Linked DNA regions of Homo sapiens. The protein of the gene in region 1 interacts with the protein of each later gene in a biochemical or structural test. Each region holds a gene or a part of one and is shown in the gene's direction. Other genes may lie near its edges.

Region 1 (7,835 bases):
ATATATATAATGTACATATATATAATGTACATATATATGTACATATATGTACACATATATATATAATATATATATTTTTAGACATATTCTCGCCCTGTGGCCCAGGTTGGAGTGCAGTGGTGCCATCTTGGCTCACTGCAACCTGTACCTCCTGGGTTCAAGCAATTCTCCTGCCTCAACCTCCCAAGTAGCTGTGATTACAGGCATGCACCACCACAACTGGCTAATTTTTATATTTTTAGTAAGACAGGGTTTCACCATGTTGGTCAGGCTGGTCTCAAACTCCTGGCCTCAAGTGATCCACCCACCTTGGCCTCCTAAAGTGCTGGTATTAAGGCATGAGCCACCGTGCCTGGCCATATTTTTTAAACTTATATATATAAAAACTAGGATACTTATCTTTTCATTTATAATTTGTGATAGTACCTTTTATATATTCTTCTTATTAATTTTTAATTGTTACACGCTTTCCCAAAATCTTCCAGCCTATGGTCATCTTTTAACTTTGTTGATGGAGTCTTTTGTATAGTGTTAGATTTTAATGTCTGTAAATTTAATAATTTTTTCCTATATGAACTGTGATTTTATTTTATTTTTTTTTAGTTTAGAGACAGGGCCTTGCTCTGTCCCTCAAGCTGGAGTGCAGTGTCACAATTGTAGCTCAGTGTAACCTATAACTCCTGGAATCAAGTGATCCCCTTGCCTCAAGCTTCCTGAGAAGTTAGGACTACTGGCATGCACTACCATACCTGGCTAATTTTTAAATATTTTGTAGAGACAAGGTCTCTCTATGTTTCCCAGGATCGTCTTAACTCTTGGCCTCAAGTAAGCCTCCCACCTCGGCTTCCCAAAGTGCTTGGATTACAGGTGTGAGCCACCATACCTGGCCTTAACTGTAATTTTTGTTTTGTTTCTTTCCCTCTTAATGTCAGATAGTTTTCTATATTTTTTTCAAATTTTTTTTTTTTTTTGAGACAGTCTCACTTCTTCACTCAGGCTGGAGTGCAATGGTGCGATCTTGGCTCACTGCAATCTCTGCCTCCTGGGTTCAAGCAATTCTCCTGGCTCGGTCTCCCCAGTAGCTCGGATTACATGCACGTGCCACCACACCTGGCTAATTTTTGTATTTTTAGTGGAGACGGGGTTTCACCATGTTGGCCAGGCTGGTCTCGAACTCCTGAGCTCAAGTGATCATCCCACCTGGGCCTCCCAAAGTGCTGGGATTACAGTCATGAGCCACTGCACCTGGCCTGTTTTCATTTTTTATACAAAAATGTTCAATCCATGTGGAATTTATTTTTGAATATGGTGTGAGGTAGGCATAATCATTTGATGCTTTTTCCACAAACAGTGGTCTCAGATTCATTTATCAAATTGCCCTTTTTTTTTCCACTGATACATAATGCAACATCTCTCATATATCATTTCCATATATGTGAAGATGTGTTTCTGGGTTTTCTATACTCTCATTGGTCACTTTGTATAGCTGTGTCAATAACATGCCAATTAATTTCTATAGCTTCAAAAAAGTATAATGCTTCCTATACTGTATAAGTTGTGTCCTCCATAAGAACACCAGGGTAGAGACTGAAATCCAAATCCTGCTTGATACACCCAGATATAAGGCTGTGCCTACCTAAAAGGCACTTTTTTCTAATTCATAGAAAGACTGCCTGCTGGGTAAACTATGTGCTTTCAGGGCTCCCCGCTTTCATCCTAGGGGTACTTTTTCCTTCTTCAGAAATTGATAGAGAAAGGCTACTACATACTCTGAATGGATGTCAATTGGACATCCAAAAGGACAAGATGGCAATTCTCCCATCTTGTCCTTCTTCAAAAGTGTCTAGTCTATACTAGGCCTTTTGATCTTGCTGAAATCTATGTAAATCTTGTTGAGAATTTCACTAATCTTGCATTGTTTTTTATTACTTTGTAGAGAATTGACATATTTTTGAATTTAGTTTTCCCATTAATTAATGTGATATTAATATTTATTCATGCCTTTTTAATGCCTTTTAACAGAGTTCAATAATTTATTCATAAAGGTTTTGTAAATATTTGTTAATTTATTTTCAAGGTTTCCCTTTCATTGTCATCATACACACACACACACACAATTGCACTTTATGCTTGTGCATCACTCATGTTTAGGAACACATTTTTTTTATAATGATGACATTAAAAAATACTTATTGGTCATTCAAAATGAATTTCCTTTTCAAAACCTTAGTTTATTATTTTTTTTCCTGGTCTATCTGTGGCGTAATACCCTCCTCCCAGTGATTTGTAAGAACTTTTGAAAGTTGAAGGCAAATTGTATTTCATCATATGTATTTCAAATTTTTTCTTCCTGTTTGCCGTTTGACTTCTAGTTTCATTATTGGGTATTTTTTCTTTGACTGCAGAAAATTTAAATTTGATGGAGTCACATATACTACCCTTATGTGATTTCTTTTTTGTTTTTATGTTTCCTTTTTCAAGATTATATAACTATTAATTTATATTTTATTTTTGAAGTTATTTTTATTTAACTTTTTAATCTATTTGATGTTTGCTGTAATTAGTAATGTCAGTTTTATTTTTTTTCTTTTCAGGAAATTAGCCAAATGTTCTAGCACCATTTTATTCTCCACTGAACCCTGCTTCCATCATAAATTCATGCCTTAATCTTCATTTTCAGTCTTGTTAACTACTTGAAGAGTTGATAAATCTTGGAATTTCAGTCAATCAATTAAACATTTTTGAAAACTAAGAGAATACTTTACCTTAACACTGCAGTAGTTCATGGGAGAATGCTCCCAACAAATAATTCATATTTTCACACTGTCTACTCACAGTCTGGCCAATATAGAGTAGATAATAAATAGGCAATAGATGGATGAATGAATTGTGGAAATTAGGAGACATCTTTTAATTTAGATTTATTTTTCTTTGGAAGGGAGGTAGGTTTTAATTTCTTGCAAGGTTGTAATTCAGTAGAACAGGAAGGGAGAAACTAATGCAGAGGAACAGAAGGAATGCATGAGATGGAGAATGCCTAGAAATGTTTGAGACATTGATTAAGTCATCAGAAATGGAAACAAGTTTAGAAACAACTTAGAAAATAATACACTGTAGGTCTGATAAATATTGTAAGATTGGGAGTTTTTTGTTAAATTATGGAAAATTTTATATAGATACAATAGTAGAACAGACCACATGAACCCATCTCATATTATCTTCAACAATTATCAATTCAAAAGTTGTTATCGTTATCTCTATCTCCACACATTTCATCTTTTCCTCCACCACTGGATGACTTTGAAAGAAATCCTAACCATTTCAACTATAAATATTTTAGCATGTCTCTGTAAAAGTTAAAGACTCTATAACAACAAGACATAGACCCAATATCCAGGTTGAGTAGGAGTTTGCTATCTTACTAATCTAATGTATTAACAAAGTCTAGAGCATTCTTATTAAAGTGGTAGAGCATGAAGAACCTTCTACCTGGAGTTAGGAGATTTGCTGGGTTGAAGTCCTGGCTCTCAACTTCCCACCTGTGTGACTCCAGCAAAGCTCTTCACTTCTCAATTCCAAATCTCAATTTCCTCACTAGTGAAAGAAGGATACATAGTAGTAGTTGTATCCATTTCAGAATTGTCATCAGGATTGAAGTAACAGATGTGAAAACAAAACTAAAATTGTGAAGTAGTAACTTCCAGTCCAATCCTCTTCTTTGTAAGTGATCTTGAGGACAGACACATCACCTGAAGGATAGATCATCTTTGCCTAGCCTTGTCTACAATGTTCTTGCTAGGTTTCTTTTCCTAAAAACACATTACTTAGGTACTTAACAGAACAAACAAACAAACAATCAAAAGACAAAACCAAAAAACTTTGGGGTTATAGACACCCATACTCATAAGTATTTCTGAATACCAAGAGAAGAGTATTTAGGTTTGCTTCTCTCAACTTTTCACCTTTCATTTCATGTACCCTGTCCTTTGTCTCAGCTCTAATAGCTCTGAGAGCTGATTACTTTTCGGGTGTCCCAAGTATCAGGATCCTGCCTAGTGCAACTCAAATTTCCAAAAGTTAATTTAGTGGCCTTTTGGTGACCAGAGCTTCAGATAACTCACAGGGAAACAATGTTTATTTCCTCTCCCACTAACAGTCACAAAAAATCATAAAAAAGAGTAGCGGGGGCAGTTTTGATGGCTAACCCCTCTTTCCATCCTTTGGGGGAAAATTGCTCATCTCCCTATAGGTGGAACTCTAAAGACAATGTATTCCTAAAAGGGGCCATCTGGGCGGTGTCCTCTTTTCCCAGCGCCCTGATTTCTATTCTTAGATCTGGAGATAGGCGGCTTTCATTTTTCCTGCTCCCAGTTCCCAGACCTTCCGTGGGGCCGCAGGATCCCCGGCTGGCGGGTCGCGGAGGGTGGCCGGCCGGGCTGCGCACTGCGCGCCTCCGCTGCGGGGCTCCGGGCCTGTGGACTCAGCGGAGTCCGCTGAGTCAGTTTCTTCCCGCGCGACTCCCGGCCGCGCCGCCGCTGCGGTGGAATCTGGTCCCAGGAGGCGGCGTCCGCCCGGGGTCCGGTCTAGGCGTGCGTGGGGGCCACGGTCACGGTCATCCCAGCCAGGCCCGGCTCCAGCAGCCCCACGGCCGCCGCCAGAGTTCTGCGCGGCCCGTCGCCTCGGCGGAGCCTCTGGCAGGCCCCTGAGCTCGTTTTTGGGGCCTGAGTGGGGGAGGAGGAAGCCGAGCAGGAGGGCTCCGGAGAGGGAGGGCAACGCGGGGCGGGGAGCTGCCTCCTTCCTCATAAACAGGCGGGCGTGGGCGCCGATGGGGCCCGCGGGGAGCGCTGGCTGCGGGCGGTGAGCTGAGCTCGCCCCCGGGGAGCTGTGGCCGGCGCCCCTGCCGGTTCCCTGAGCAGCGGACGTTCATGCTGGGAGGGCGGCGGGTTGGAAGCAGGTGCCACCATGGCTAGTGGCAGCTGTCAGGGGTGCGAAGAGGACGAGGAAACTCTGAAGAAGTTGATAGTCAGGCTGAACAATGTCCAGGAAGGAAAACAGATAGAAACGCTGGTCCAAATCCTGGAGGATCTGCTGGTGTTCACGTACTCCGAGCGCGGTAATCACTTGAAAATAAACTGTGCTTTTATTTTTGCAAACTTTCTCCCCCTCCTTACATTTGCAAATTTTGTCCTCCTCCCCTTGACCCTGCTCAAACCCGGACTCTTAAGGAGCCGCAAACTCCCATATCCTTTCCTTAGGGCAGAAAGCAGCTGAGAATTTCAGGAAGGTCTTCACCTTTTTGACTTTTCTCCCCGTTTCAGACTAAAAAGGAGAGGGGGTGCTGTGGATTGTGACTTTGCTTCTTTTCCCCACCCACTTGTTTTCCAGCCTCCAAGTTATTTCAAGGCAAAAATATCCATGTGCCTCTGTTGATCGTCTTGGACTCCTATATGAGAGTCGCGAGTGTGCAGCAGGTAAAGGCATTGTTTTCACTTCAACTCATTCTCCCTTCTGTTTGGAAGGAGACGTTTTACTGGCAATGTTAATATAGCCGAGAGTTCTTGGTTATTCCCAAAATTTGGCTTGAGGAACCTCTGACTGTGATTTTAAGATGGGAATATTGTTAAATCATTACGCAATGTAAACGGGATGAAGAGCCCCAGTATGTGTTCCCTGAGTGTCTTTAAGAAGTAACTTTATAAAACCAACAGTATGGATGGTGGTAGAAGGAGGATAAAAATGGGTTCGGTTTTAGTCTCGTTATTGGCAAGATGAATTCATTAGTGTTTAGACTTGACTATTCCAAGTATCTTCCCAATACAGAGCATGTCCTAGATGAGAAGATTATGAATAGTTTGGAAAAGGGGAATAATTAATAGTGATAAAATGCAACTTTGTCACTAGCAAACTCTTGTAGAGTTCAGCACTTTTTAAAATTCAAAGATTTCTAGCCTTTAGTTGTAGTATACCTTGTAGTATCTAAAGAAAGTGATGTCTTATGAGACCCTCATAGTTTGCAACTGTTGTCATATAAAATGCATGTAGAAGTGAAACTTTTACAATCTGTACCATAGGAAACCCAGAAATTTGCTATGTATCTTGGATTTTTTTTTAAAGGGGGCCTTAAAAATGGTAATTAAGAATGATTTACAGTCAAAACAAAATTATAGGCCAAGGTGATAACTTCCTTCGGAGCACTTAGAGATTTGGGGAACTGAAATCAGTTTTGTCATCTGCATGTTAACTCATGCAGAGAAAGAGAATTGGACTTTGAACTCCTTGGAGGTGCAGTCAGAAAGCCAATGTTTCTTAATGGTTGAGAGGCTTGACAGACATGAGGCATCTCAATCTTTAAAGTGGTGTGGGTCTATCTTTATCTTGATGTTTATCTCTGTATCTAGCTGTATCTAGTCTGGGTGAACCATCTAGCTTCTTTGATATGAGGACATTTACATCTGGAAGAAATATTTTAATTTGTTTTCAACTGTGAAATATTTTCCATCTGACTATTATAGATTTTCACGCTGCTATCAAACCAAACCAAGAAAAGATGGAGGCATAATAAAGATGCTGTTCTTTTAAGACTCAAAGTCGGAATTTTGCCTGTGGAATATGAGTCACTTTTTGGGCACTGGCCTATTGTGCTTCCTGCTCTGCACCCACGTCATCCCTTCTTACTTGTCTCTGCTTTGGTGTTCAGAAGTGCCTGATTCTGGCCACCTTCATTCCCTAGACTCTGTACTTGATAGAGTCACTCCTGCTTGATACTGCTCAGGACAGTCAGATCCTGGGTAGGCGTTTTGGTCTGCAGGGTCTAGATAAGGCAGTGCTATACTTGACAACCCAGGGGAGCCTGGAACATACTTCCTAATTCTTAATTTTAGAAATTGCCCAAGCCTGAGCATACTTGTCCGGAGTAGTTATGAGTGTCACTTAGTATTTCTGCCTAGAGAGTACCAGAGGCAAAGTATGCTGGAAAATAAGGAAGAGTTTTTTTAAAAGTAATTAATTACTTTTTTGGATATATCATAGTTGTATATATTTTGGGGATACATATGCTATTTGATACATGTATACAATGTGTAATGTTCAAATCAGGGTAACTGGAATATCCGTCACCTCGAACATTTTTCTTTGTGTTGGCAACGTTGCAATTTCTTTCTTCTAGCTATTTTAAAATATGCAATGAATTATTAACCATAATTTCCCTGCTATACTATTAAATATTAACTTAATTGCTTGTATCTAATTATATTTTTGTACACATTAACCACCTTCTCTTTATCCCTCCCCATCCTTTCATTTCCAGTCTCTGGTAACCACCATTCTACTCTCTTCCTCCATGAGATCCACCTTTTCCGCTCCTACATATGAGTGAGATTATGCAATATTTTATTTCTGTACCTGGCTTATTTAATTTAACCTAATGACCTCCAGTCCCACCCATGCTGTTGCAAATGACAGGATTTCATTTTTTATGACTGAATAATATTCCATTGTGTATGTATACCACATTTTCTTTTATTTTTAGTTAAGTAATTAATTTAGAGACAGGGTCTCACTCTGTTGCCCAGACTGGAGAGCAGTGGTGTGATCAAAGCTCACTGCAGGCCTGCAATCCTGGGCTGAAGTAGTCCTCCTGCCTCAGCCTCCCAGGTAGCTAGGACTATAAGCATGTGCCACCATGCTCAGCTAATTTTTTTTTCTTTTTTTACTTTTTGTAGAGATGGAGTCTTGCTATGTTGCCCAGGTTAGTTTCAAACTCCTGACCTCAAGTAATCCTCCTGCCTCGGCCTCCATATTTTCTTTGTTAATCTGTTGATAGACATATAAGGTGA
Region 2 (7,032 bases), on another chromosome or scaffold:
CAAGATTCCAATCATCCTTCTATGTATACATTTTACAAAGTTGAGCTCACGGACTCTATGAAATACTGTTTACATTTCCTCAATATTACTAAAGTGTCTTCCGTGAGCATGAAATAGTCTTCATAAAGATTTTGTATGACCATATAAGAAGCCATTTTGTGGCTGTACTATATACATTATTTAAGCAAAATATCTAACAACTAAAAATCAATCTTTTTTTTCTTTTAATGGGAGACTTTTGTACTCTGTAAGAGGAATTTAGCATATTGGTTTACATTGTGAGGTTTGGATTTAGACCTGGATTCAAACCCTGTCTCCCCTGCTTAATAGCAATGTGACTTTAGACAAATACCTATTTCTTTATCTCCAATGTGGAGATAATACTCTACTTCACAGGGTGATTATTGATATTAAATGAGGTAGTACATATGAAGTGCCTGGTGAGTAGCAAGTCTTGATACAGGAAAGCTGCTGCCTGTTACTATTACTACTGCTACCATTACTACTGAGTTTTCAGCCAAAGGACTAAATCTCTAATTATGAAATTTCAGCTATCATTGACCTAGCTTCGAGGATCTATTTGTAAAGGTGGTATTTTTTCTAGTGCCCGTGAAATCATGTGTGTGGCTGTCTCTTATTTTGGTCTGGGCCTGTTTCTGCACCTTTGTCCTCCCACTGAGTTGGCTTTGGTAGCCCCTCTATGCCACCCATACCCACCTCTACTGAGGCCCCCTTCCCCTCTTGAGCCTAAGGAAGCCAATGAGACATAAATATAGGAAGCATTAGCAATGCAAGGCAGTATATAGAACCACCGACATCAGCACTGAAATGGTCTTTGGACCATTTATCTAGTTTAATTGGCTGCCCTCCATCCCATTCCTGCCTTTGCACAGGTAAGGGAAACTAAGGCCCAGGAAAAGGACAGGAGTTATCCAAGGTTGTAGATTTGACCAGCTACATGCTAGGCTTGGAATCCAGTGTTCTTCTTTGTTTTTAATTTTTATTTTAAGTTCAGGGGTACATGTGCAGGTTTGTCATAAGGTAAACTCATGTCATGGGGGTTCATTGTACAGATCATTTTATCACCCAGGTATTAAGCCTAGTACCCATTAGTTATTAAAATATTTTTTCCTGATCATCTCCCTCCTCCCACCCTCCACCTTCTATGTGTCTGTGTGTTCTCATCATTTAATTCCCACTTATAAGTGAGAACATGTGGTATTCTACAACCTCTGCCTCCCGGGTTAAAGCGATTCTCGTGCCTCAGCCACCAAAGTAGCTGGGATTACAGGTGTGCACCACCTTGCCTGGCTAATTTTTGTGTTTTTAGTAGAGATGGGGTTTCGCTATATTGTCCAGGCTGGTCTTGAACTCCTGGCCTCAAGGGATGCGTCCATCTTGGCCTCCCAAAGTGCTGGGATTACAGGTGTGAGCTACCATGCCCAGTCTGGCATTTGATTTTCTGTTCCTGCATTAGTTTGCTAAGGATAATGACCTCCACTCCATTCATGTTCCTGCAAAGGACATGATCTTGTTGTTTTTTATGGCTGCATACTAACATACATTTTCTTTATCCAGTCTACCATTGACTGGCATTTAGGTTGATTCCATGTCATTGCTATTGTGAATAGTGCTTCAATGCACATGCGCGTTTATGTATTTTTATGATAGAATGATTTATATTCCTTTGGATATATACCCCATAATGATATTGCTGGGTTGAATGGTAGTTTTGTTTTCAGGTCTTTGAGAAATTGCCACACTGTTTTCTACCATGGTTGAACTAATTTACACTCCCACCAACAGTGTATAAAGGTTCCCTTTTCTTTGCAATCTCACTAGCATCTGTTATTATTTTTTTTTGATTTTTTAATAATAGCTATTCTGACTTGTGTGAGATGGTATCTCATTGTGGTTTTGATTTGCATTTCTCTAATGATGTAAATTTTTTATATATGCTTCTTGGCCACATGTATGTCTTCTTTTGAAAAGTGTCTCTTCATATCCTTTGCTCACATTTTAATGGGGTTGTTTTTTTTCTTGTAAATTTGTTAAAGTTCCTTATAGATGCTGGATATTAGACCTTTGTAAGTTGCATAGTTTGCAAATATTTTCTCTGGTTCCGTAGGTTGCCTGTTAACTCGATAGTTTCTTTTGCTGTGCAGAAGCTCTTTAGTTTAGTTAGATCTCATTTGTCAATTTTTGCTTTTGTTGCAATTGCTTTTGGCGTCTTTGTTATGAAATCTTTGTCCATTCCTATGTTCAGAATGGTATTACGTAGGTTTTCTTTGAGGGTTTTTATAATTTTGAGTTTTACATTACTTTTACATTTAAGTCTTTAATACATATAGAGTTGATTTTTATATGTGAGATAAGGATGGGGTCCAGTTTCAATCTTCTACATATGGCTAACCAGTTATCCCAGCACTGTTTATTGAATTGGGAGTCCTTTTTCCATTGCTTGTTTTTGTCGACTTTGTCAAAGATCAGATGGTTGTAGGTGTGTGGCCTTATTTCTGGGCTCTCTATTCTGCTCCATTGGTCTCTGTGTCTGTTTTTGTACCAGTACAATGCTGTTTTGGTTACTGGAGCCCTCTAGTATCATTTGAAGTTGGGTAGCATGATGCCTCCAGCTTTGTTCTTTTTGCTTAGGATTGCCATGGTTATTCAGGCTGTTTTTTTGTTTCCATATGAATTTTAAAATAGTTTTTCCTAGTTCTGTGAAGAATGTCATTGGTAGTTTGATAGGAATAGCATTGAGTCTATTCTATGAATTGCTTTGGGCAGTATCACCATTTTAACAATATTGATTCTTCCTATTCATGAGCATGGACTGTTTCTCCATTTGTTTGTGTCATATCTGATTTCTTTGAGCAGTGATTTGTAGTTCTTCTTGTAGAGATCTTTCGCTTCCCTAGTTAACAGTATTCCTAGATATTTATTCTTTTGTGGCAGTTCTGAATGGGATTGCCTTCCTGATTTGGCTCTTGGCTTGACTGTTGTTGGTGTATACGAATGCTAGTGACTTTTGTATGTTGATTTTTGTACACTGAGACTTTGCTGAAGTTATTTATCAGATTAAGGAGCTTTTGGGCCGAGACTATTGGATTTTCTAGATATAGGATCATGTCATCTGCAAACAAGGATAGTTTGACTTCCTCTCCTCTTGCTTGGTTGCCCTCTATTTCTTTCTCTGGTCTGATTGCTCTGGCCAGGACTTCTAATACTATGTTGAATATGAGTGGTGAGAGAGGGCATTCTTGTCTTGTGTCGGTTTTAAAAGGGAATGCTTCCAGCTTTGGCGCATTCAGTATGATGTTGGTTGTGGCTTTATCAGATGGCTCTTATTATTTTGAGGTATGCTCCTTCAATACCTAGTTTATTGAGAACTTTTAACATGAAGGGGTGTTAGATTTTATTGAAAGCTTTTTCTGCCCTTTAGATTATCATGTGGAACCCAGTGCTCTTTGTCCTGATATTAATTTGCCTCTGCAATTGTTTACCAGTGCTATAGATAATCCAGGTAGATCAGAGGTGAGAAGAGAACCCTGTGAGATGAAGCTGTCTAGTATAGATGGAAAGGCCTTCCTGGAAGAAGTACAGTTATCATTTGCCTGCTCTTAGTTGTAGGCTGATCTGCATTCTTTTTTAAAAATTTTTTTGAGACAAAGTCTCGCTCTGTTGCCCAGGTTGGAGTGCAGTGGTGTGATCTCGGCTCACTGCAACCTCTACCTTCTGGGTTCCAGTGATTCTCATACCCCAGCCTCCCAAGTAGCTTGAACTACAGGTGTGCACCACCATGCCCGGATAATTTTTGTATTTTTAGTAGAGATGGGGTTTTGCCATGTTACCCAGGCTGGTCTCGAACTCCTGGCCTCAAGCAATCCACCCACCTCGGCCTCCCAAAGTGCTGGGATTACAGGCATGAGGCATTGCACCCGGCCTTCATGCTTGTCTGTTCTTTGGTAAGTATTGCTCTGTGGCTGTGTTGTTTGTCTTCAATAAGCTGCTTGGGAGCAGGGGTTGTGTTTGGGTCAATATTCTCCCTTCATCCCCATCAGTATCTAAGTTGCCCAGGCTCTTAGCATCCTAACTCCTTCCTCTGTGGTTGAGCAGAGACACTTGTCTCAGGCTCTGTTGAACACAGAGCCAGATGACTAACCTGCTTCCTTTGATCTCATCCTAGATCAGTGTGCGTGTGACCACCATGGATGCAGAGCTGGAGTTTGCCATCCAGCCCAACACCACCGGGAAGCAGCTATTTGACCAGGTAAGGCGGAGACTCCTTAGCCTCCTCTCCTTCTCTGAATAGCTTCCACCACAATGCCAACAATCCATGACTTTTGCCTCTTGTCAAAGAATCTCTCTTCCTGTTCACTCCAAGATAGATCAAAATGAAGGCTGATTCCAGACTTAATATGAAAGGAGGCAAAGTTAAACTTTGGCAGCCTGCACCCTATGGTCCTGATTAATTTTATCTTTGGTCCTGAATAAGGGAGAAAAGAAAATGGTGTATATTCTATGCTAGATGCTTTAAAAATCTTAGCATATGGAGCCTTCCTTTTAACTCTGAAACATGTAAGTGATGTCTTCTCCATTTTAATGATGAGGCTCAGAAGTTAAATAACTTAATTGCACCCAAATGATATTTGGCTGGGATTTGCACTCCACATTGTTGCCACTGCACCACACTGCCTCTGTCCCATGTTTTTGCTTCCTAGTAGAAGGAAACTAACTTACTCTCCCTGAGGTAGTAAGCTCTATGCACATTTCTCTCAAAAGAATGTTGGGACTTAGGACAACATGGGAGTTGATGGATGCAGTAGGAGGCTGCTTCATCTCCTACAGGCATGCCATGAAGATAATTGCTTACTCGCCATAGTGAAGAGGTCATTCCCATCTCCAACCCAAGGGGTGTCCCTTCATTGTGAATCATTATTGTCAGAAAGGATGTACTGTATACTATAATAAACAGATGGCAGCTACAGACATTTTTAGCATTCAAGGGAATGTGCCGTCTGTGGCCAGACTTCTAGGAGCAAAAATGAGGCTCCCATTTCCAGAGGCTGGGACCTCACCAGACAGGCCATTATCCTATTTCTCCACCAGACTCCGATGAAGTGGAGGTCTGAGTTATTGTCCAGGATGTTAGGCTGCATATCACCCTGATGGATTCTCCAGGCCCTCTTGCTTCCCTTTCTTCCTTGCTCTCTGTGTCCTTCTACCATATGAGAACTTCCCCAGGGTTGGAGAGAGGAAGAAAAAAAGAAGGAGGTAGTGTTCAAATAAGCTAATTCTATTCCTGTGAATACTTCTGACTGGTGAGAGAAAAGACAAGAGTAGAATGGAGACAGGGGTAGGAGAGGGCTAGAAATTTGAGGACAGCTTGGGTACACCTTCTGAGTTCTTATTACATAGAGTGGGAAAATTATTGTCTGTGGCTAATACAGATGAGAGTTAACATTTATCCAGGACTCAGTGTATGCTAAGTATTATGATAAGCATTTGACTATCACAAAGCTCTGTGAGTGCATGAATTAGTATGGGCATGTTTTACAGATGAGGACACAAAATCCTCATTTTCCTAGTTAGACCCTGGGAAAATTATTGAACTCTCTGGGTTGGTATCTTCATCCCCTCCCCCCGAGAAATATCTAATACTTACCTCACAGGATTTTTGTGAGTGTGTTATGTTTTGTATCTTACCTGTTACTCAAAAATCTGATTATAGTGGCATATAAGGATGTCCAATCCAAAAAGATAAATTCGAAATAGGTGAGAAAGATAAGAAAACACAAATAGGAAAGAAAGTGTTAGCTGGAAGAAAGCATCCAGCATATGGTAGAGAAGTAATAAATGATAGCTCCCTTTCCAATACCATTGTGCTTCTTGTATTATTAATTGAGCTGGAGTTGACGTGATGTGGTGGCTCATGTCTGTAATCCTAACACTGAGATGGGAGGATTGCTTGAGCCCAGGGGCTCGAGACCAGCCTGGGTAACACAGCGAGACCCTGTCTCTACAAAAAATTTAAAAATTAGCATGGCATGGTGGTGCACACCTATAGTCCCAGCTACTCAGGAGATTGTGCCAGGAGGGTTGCTCAAGCCCAGGAGTTCAAGGTTACAGTGAGCTATGATCACGCCACTGTACTCCAGCCTAGGTGACAGAGCAAGACTCTGTCTCTAAAAAAAAAAAAAAAAAGTAAAGAAAAATAATCTAGAATTGGGAGAATTGGGAGATGGGCTTAATGATCCTCAGAATATCTAACTTCAGATTTAGGTGGAACTTACTTCTCTGGAGTTTGTTTTGTGTTTGTTTTACTTTGAATGGCAAAGTGTAATCATTGATACTTAATTGGTGAAAATACAAATTAGTCTGAGGAATATTTAAATACAAGTTTACTACAATTAAAGTGATGTGCTTACATTCACATAGCTCACAAGTGATTATGGTGCTAGTCTGGAATGACTAAATGCATTCTAATTATAATTGTGCTTTGCATTCTCTCTTCACATGGAGGTTATATTGGAGAACTTTTAAAGGGACAGCCTAGTGAAGTCAAAAGGGCCTGGATAGAAAGTCATGAATCTTGGGCTGTAGGGTTGGCTCTATCACTAATTCGCTGTGATACAAACGTTTCCCTTATTTGGGCCTCAGTTTCTCATCTGTACAATGCCTAACTTGTTTCTCAAATCTGGTTATCTCTCAGAAAATTTATCTCTGGCATTTATTTGTGCATTCCATCTCTCTTTCTCTCCCATTTCTGTTCCTAGTATTGGGATTTCAGACAATCCTTTTCTGTAAAAAGGAGAGAAATGCCTCACCTGAGTATGATCAGCTGCTGGCATATGTGAGGAGGTAGGGCTAGCTGGCAGGGGGATCATCTCTTCCTTGACAGGCTTTTTACTGTCTCTAAGACAAAAGGGAGGAAGTGTCCATAGAACACATAGGCTTTTGGGCCCTTTGCTTTAGACAGCAGTATCATTCTGGGTAGCAGCTATTAGAGAGGGAAGCGGTTAGTCAGTGCAG
Region 3 (4,483 bases), on another chromosome or scaffold:
GCCTACTATGGCCATATGGCTGAATTAGTTGACTTGGAGCACTTCCAATAGATTAATAAATCAGCTCCCCCAGAAATGAGGGGGTCTAGAGGCAGGCAGATGGAGAGGACAGGGACTTCATAGCATTTAACATCATTTTACCATCTTTCCTTCCTGTTCTTTTTGGTGCTGTTGGAAATCAGTAGTGAGAGGAAAACACTCAAATCTGGAAGTCTAGCGCTGTCGGTAGGAACTGGGTAGAAAAAACTATGCATGTCCCCCCATCACTCGGAAACTACATCAGAACATCATAGGAGCATCCTGTTTCCATGTGCATTAGTTTCCACGAACATACATGTGAATGTTTTCCCACCTGTAGTGTTGCTGTGGAGTTGTGAGATGTCAAAGTGGAGGCAAGAGTATCTGCCTTTTGCAGTAGGCTCTGTTCTTTTCCTGTCCTGAGAGAGGAGGTCAGTCTAACCCTCACCTTGTGAGTTCAGCCTTATACTGACCTGAGCCCAGGGTGGATCAGATGCTGAGATCATGTGACTCCAAGTTGCAAGACACGTAATAGAGAGAAGCGTGACTGTTGCATCCATGCAGGCTCTAATCCTGGCTCCTTCGGGCTGGCTGAGCTTTGGCTCCTGAGCTATAAAGAGAGGATGATAGGAACACCTACTCCAGGAGGTGCTGTGAGCACAAAAGAGAAAACGGGGAAAAACGGGTTTCCTGCATGGTCAGTGCTCAACAAATTGTAGTTTCAATGATAAAAAGTAAAACCAATACACCCACCATTTTCAATGTCAAAAGGGGGCATCAAGAAAGTTAAGATTGTACCTCGGTAGGTTACCTTGCCAGAGGCTGCAGGGAACTTACTCCATTTCAGCACAGAAGCACTTTGTTTCATAGGACAGTGGTTCTACCACTTTCCAGGAAGTCCAAAGGCTGATCTCTTGGAAATGCAGCAAAAGGTGAGGTGAGTGCCAACTTCTGGGCTACTCCAGAGGGCAGCTCCAATGCCAGAGATGTTCAAGTTAAGCCAGGATCAAACAGGAAAAACCCACGCTCCCGAGGGAGAGGCTGGCCCTCGAGGGGCAGGGCCCTGCACCTGTCAGTCCCCAGGCCGGCAGGAGGCCTCCACGGTATGTGAGAAAGCTGCCTGTCTTGGGAGGGAAATCTCACTAGATGGTTCCTGAAGCGGCTTCGCAGGCTAGCATTTCATAAACGTTTTCACTTGTGAAAACAAAAATCCCTTGAGTGAGTTGTGTAAGCACAACATAGAGGCTTGTTTATAATGCTACGTATGTACTTGGAAAACCCCCCAAGAAGTCAGAACTGTCACCTTGGTCTGTTAGCTGCGTTACTTGGAAGGATTCTTGGCGTCTGCGCTCTGGTTATTTGTGTTACTGGGCAGTGTGGAAGACGTAGAATTAGATGAGGACAGTGTTGGTTCGTTGCTGATCGGCCACGGTAAAGAGCATATTTCTTTTCTATCTTGCTTTCTGGGGGCTCTTCGCCAAAATTGATCATTTCATAAAAGAGGGGAAACCCAAGGAGAGAGACTAAACTTTGAATAAAAATTTGAATGCAAAAAAAGTGCAGTTCTGCTTCGTCGATCTAAGTGACATTCTGAGTGACCAACGCATTCCTCTTTCTAGAGGGATGGCCACGCCTGGCTACCTCCACACCGTGGGCCACAGCACACCTGTGCACCATCTCAATTAGCTGCCAACTCTCTTTTAAACATCGAAATTATTTGTCCCCCAAACGTGTAAATGCATGGTTTTAAGACCCCTTCAAGTCAAAGTTTGCAGACAAAGCTCTCTGTGCATTTGATTTGTCTGGTGTGGCAGATGAGATGGCACATAGGAGGGACGTCCCCAGGGATGGACACGTGGCTTTGCTCTTTGCTGGCGCGTGTAGCAAGGGGTGTGCTAGGGTCCCGCCGAAAAAGAAGTTGCTCCTGTTGTCGCTGGCAGTTCCCCTCGGCTGCCCTGGCACCTCTAGCTGACGAGAAAAAGTGCTCATTCAAAGCAAAGCAATGGAGCGGCTGCACTTTCACCCACAGAAGTGCAGCGTTGTTTTGCAGAGCAGTGGTTATGCCAGGCACCACTCCCTGGGGCCTGGGAATCCGATTCCAGTTCTCTCTCACAGAACTGGAAATTCAATTAGCATTTGCTGAGGGAGGTCGGGAGAAATGGAATGAAAAGACCAGCTCTCCGGGGTGCCATTTCTATTAGCAGATGAGAGAGACACCCAATGGCTCAGCATCCACCCGGGACCACAGAAGAGGGGATGCTGGTGTGGGAGGACCCTGCGGCACTCTCGTCCTAACTCCTCTCTCTTCCTTTTCAGGGAGGAAGAGATAGTCGCTCTGGATCACCCATGGCTAGACGCTGAAAACCCACCTGGTTCCGGAATCCTGTCCTCAGCTTCTTAATATAACTGCCTTAAAACTTTAATCCCACTTGCCCCTGTTACCTAATTAGAGCAGATGACCCCTCCCCTAATGCCTGCGGAGTTGTGCACGTAGTAGGGTCAGGCCACGGCAGCCTACCGGCAATTTCCGGCCAACAGTTAAATGAGAACATGAAAACAGAAAACGGTTAAAACTGTCCCTTTCTGTGTGAAGATCACGTTCCTTCCCCCGCAATGTGCCCCCAGACGCACGTGGGTCTTCAGGGGGCCAGGTGCACAGACGTCCCTCCACGTTCACCCCTCCACCCTTGGACTTTCTTTTCGCCGTGGCTGCGGCACCCTTGCGCTTTTGCTGGTCACTGCCATGGAGGCACACAGCTGCAGAGACAGAGAGGACGTGGGCGGCAGAGAGGACTGTTGACATCCAAGCTTCCTTTGTTTTTTTTTCCTGTCCTTCTCTCACCTCCTAAAGTAGACTTCATTTTTCCTAACAGGATTAGACAGTCAAGGAGTGGCTTACTACATGTGGGAGCTTTTGGTATGTGACATGCGGGCTGGGCAGCTGTTAGAGTCCAACGTGGGGCAGCACAGAGAGGGGGCCACCTCCCCAGGCCGTGGCTGCCCACACACCCCAATTAGCTGAATTCGCGTGTGGCAGAGGGAGGAAAAGGAGGCAAACGTGGGCTGGGCAATGGCCTCACATAGGAAACAGGGTCTTCCTGGAGATTTGGTGATGGAGATGTCAAGCAGGTGGCCTCTGGACGTCACCGTTGCCCTGCATGGTGGCCCCAGAGCAGCCTCTATGAACAACCTCGTTTCCAAACCACAGCCCACAGCCGGAGAGTCCAGGAAGACTTGCGCACTCAGAGCAGAAGGGTAGGAGTCCTCTAGACAGCCTCGCAGCCGCGCCAGTCGCCCATAGACACTGGCTGTGACCGGGCGTGCTGGCAGCGGCAGTGCACAGTGGCCAGCACTAACCCTCCCTGAGAAGATAACCGGCTCATTCACTTCCTCCCAGAAGACGCGTGGTAGCGAGTAGGCACAGGCGTGCACCTGCTCCCGAATTACTCACCGAGACACACGGGCTGAGCAGACGGCCCCGTGGATGGAGACAAAGAGCTCTTCTGACCATATCCTTCTTAACACCCGCTGGCATCTCCTTTCGCGCCTCCCTCCCTAACCTACTGACCCACCTTTTGATTTTAGCGCACCTGTGATTGATAGGCCTTCCAAAGAGTCCCACGCTGGCATCACCCTCCCCGAGGACGGAGATGAGGAGTAGTCAGCGTGATGCCAAAACGCGTCTTCTTAATCCAATTCTAATTCTGAATGTTTCGTGTGGGCTTAATACCATGTCTATTAATATATAGCCTCGATGATGAGAGAGTTACAAAGAACAAAACTCCAGACACAAACCTCCAAATTTTTCAGCAGAAGCACTCTGCGTCGCTGAGCTGAGGTCGGCTCTGCGATCCATACGTGGCCGCACCCACACAGCACGTGCTGTGACGATGGCTGAACGGAAAGTGTACACTGTTCCTGAATATTGAAATAAAACAATAAACTTTTAATGGTATTTGCATGGGTGTCTTCTTTTGTGTTCCGGGCTGTAGCACACAGGCCCACATCAAGCGAGAGCCAGGTGTGCAGAGCAAATGTGACTCGGTGCCTCTGGGTCTCCAGGCAGGGCTGCCTGGCGGTGCCTGTTGGAGGGGGCATCCTCATCAGAGGGTCGATGGCTACTGAAGAAAGTGGAACAGAGGTAGTTGTTAGGGCACTGATTCTCTCACCAGGAAAAAAATATTTAGTGTCTCTGAAGACAAGCTTCCAAGTCTGTCTGTGTTCTGCTGTGTGGCTAGTGTACACACCCTGCAGATGTGAACCCAGGAGTCTTGGACGTGTTCCCCTTGCCACCTTTTTCTCTGAAAGCATGAAAGAGCGTGAAGCAATGTTTTACTTATAGTTACCTTTGGTTACAAGAATTTTTCTTCAAAAAGATAGACGAAAGTCTCTTTTGTTTTTTCTTTTTCTTTTGAGACAGGATCTTACTTTGCCACCCAGGTTGGAGTGCAGTGCTGCAATCTTG

The links. Proteins that work in one complex are often made in the same cells at the same time.
Region 2: of the proteins of LRRK2 (region 1) and MSN, one has a biochemical effect on the other in vitro, tested with the Homo sapiens proteins (9 studies listed by IntAct).
Region 3: of the proteins of LRRK2 (region 1) and MBP, one has a biochemical effect on the other in vitro, tested with the Homo sapiens proteins (6 studies listed by BioGRID).

Annotation. Positions count from the first base shown.
Region 1 is NC_000012.12:40,220,170-40,228,004, forward strand, and holds the start of LRRK2 (leucine-rich repeat serine/threonine-protein kinase 2), read left to right. Parts: upstream 1-4,827; 5' UTR 4,828-4,962; coding exon 4,963-5,113; intron 5,114-5,385; coding exon 5,386-5,471; intron 5,472-7,835. UniProt on the Homo sapiens protein: Serine/threonine-protein kinase which phosphorylates a broad range of proteins involved in multiple processes such as neuronal plasticity, innate immunity, autophagy, and vesicle trafficking.
Region 2 is NC_000023.11:65,712,632-65,719,663, forward strand, and holds part of MSN (moesin), read left to right. Parts: intron 1-4,186; coding exon 4,187-4,270; intron 4,271-7,032. UniProt on the Homo sapiens protein: Ezrin-radixin-moesin (ERM) family protein that connects the actin cytoskeleton to the plasma membrane and thereby regulates the structure and function of specific domains of the cell cortex.
Region 3 is NC_000018.10:76,978,323-76,982,805, reverse strand, and holds the end of MBP (Golli-MBP), read left to right. Parts: intron 1-491; exon of another isoform or gene 492-628; intron 629-816; exon of another isoform or gene 817-2,334; coding exon 2,335-2,379; 3' UTR 2,380-3,973; downstream 3,974-4,483. UniProt on the Homo sapiens protein: The classic group of MBP isoforms (isoform 4-isoform 14) are with PLP the most abundant protein components of the myelin membrane in the CNS. They have a role in both its formation and stabilization.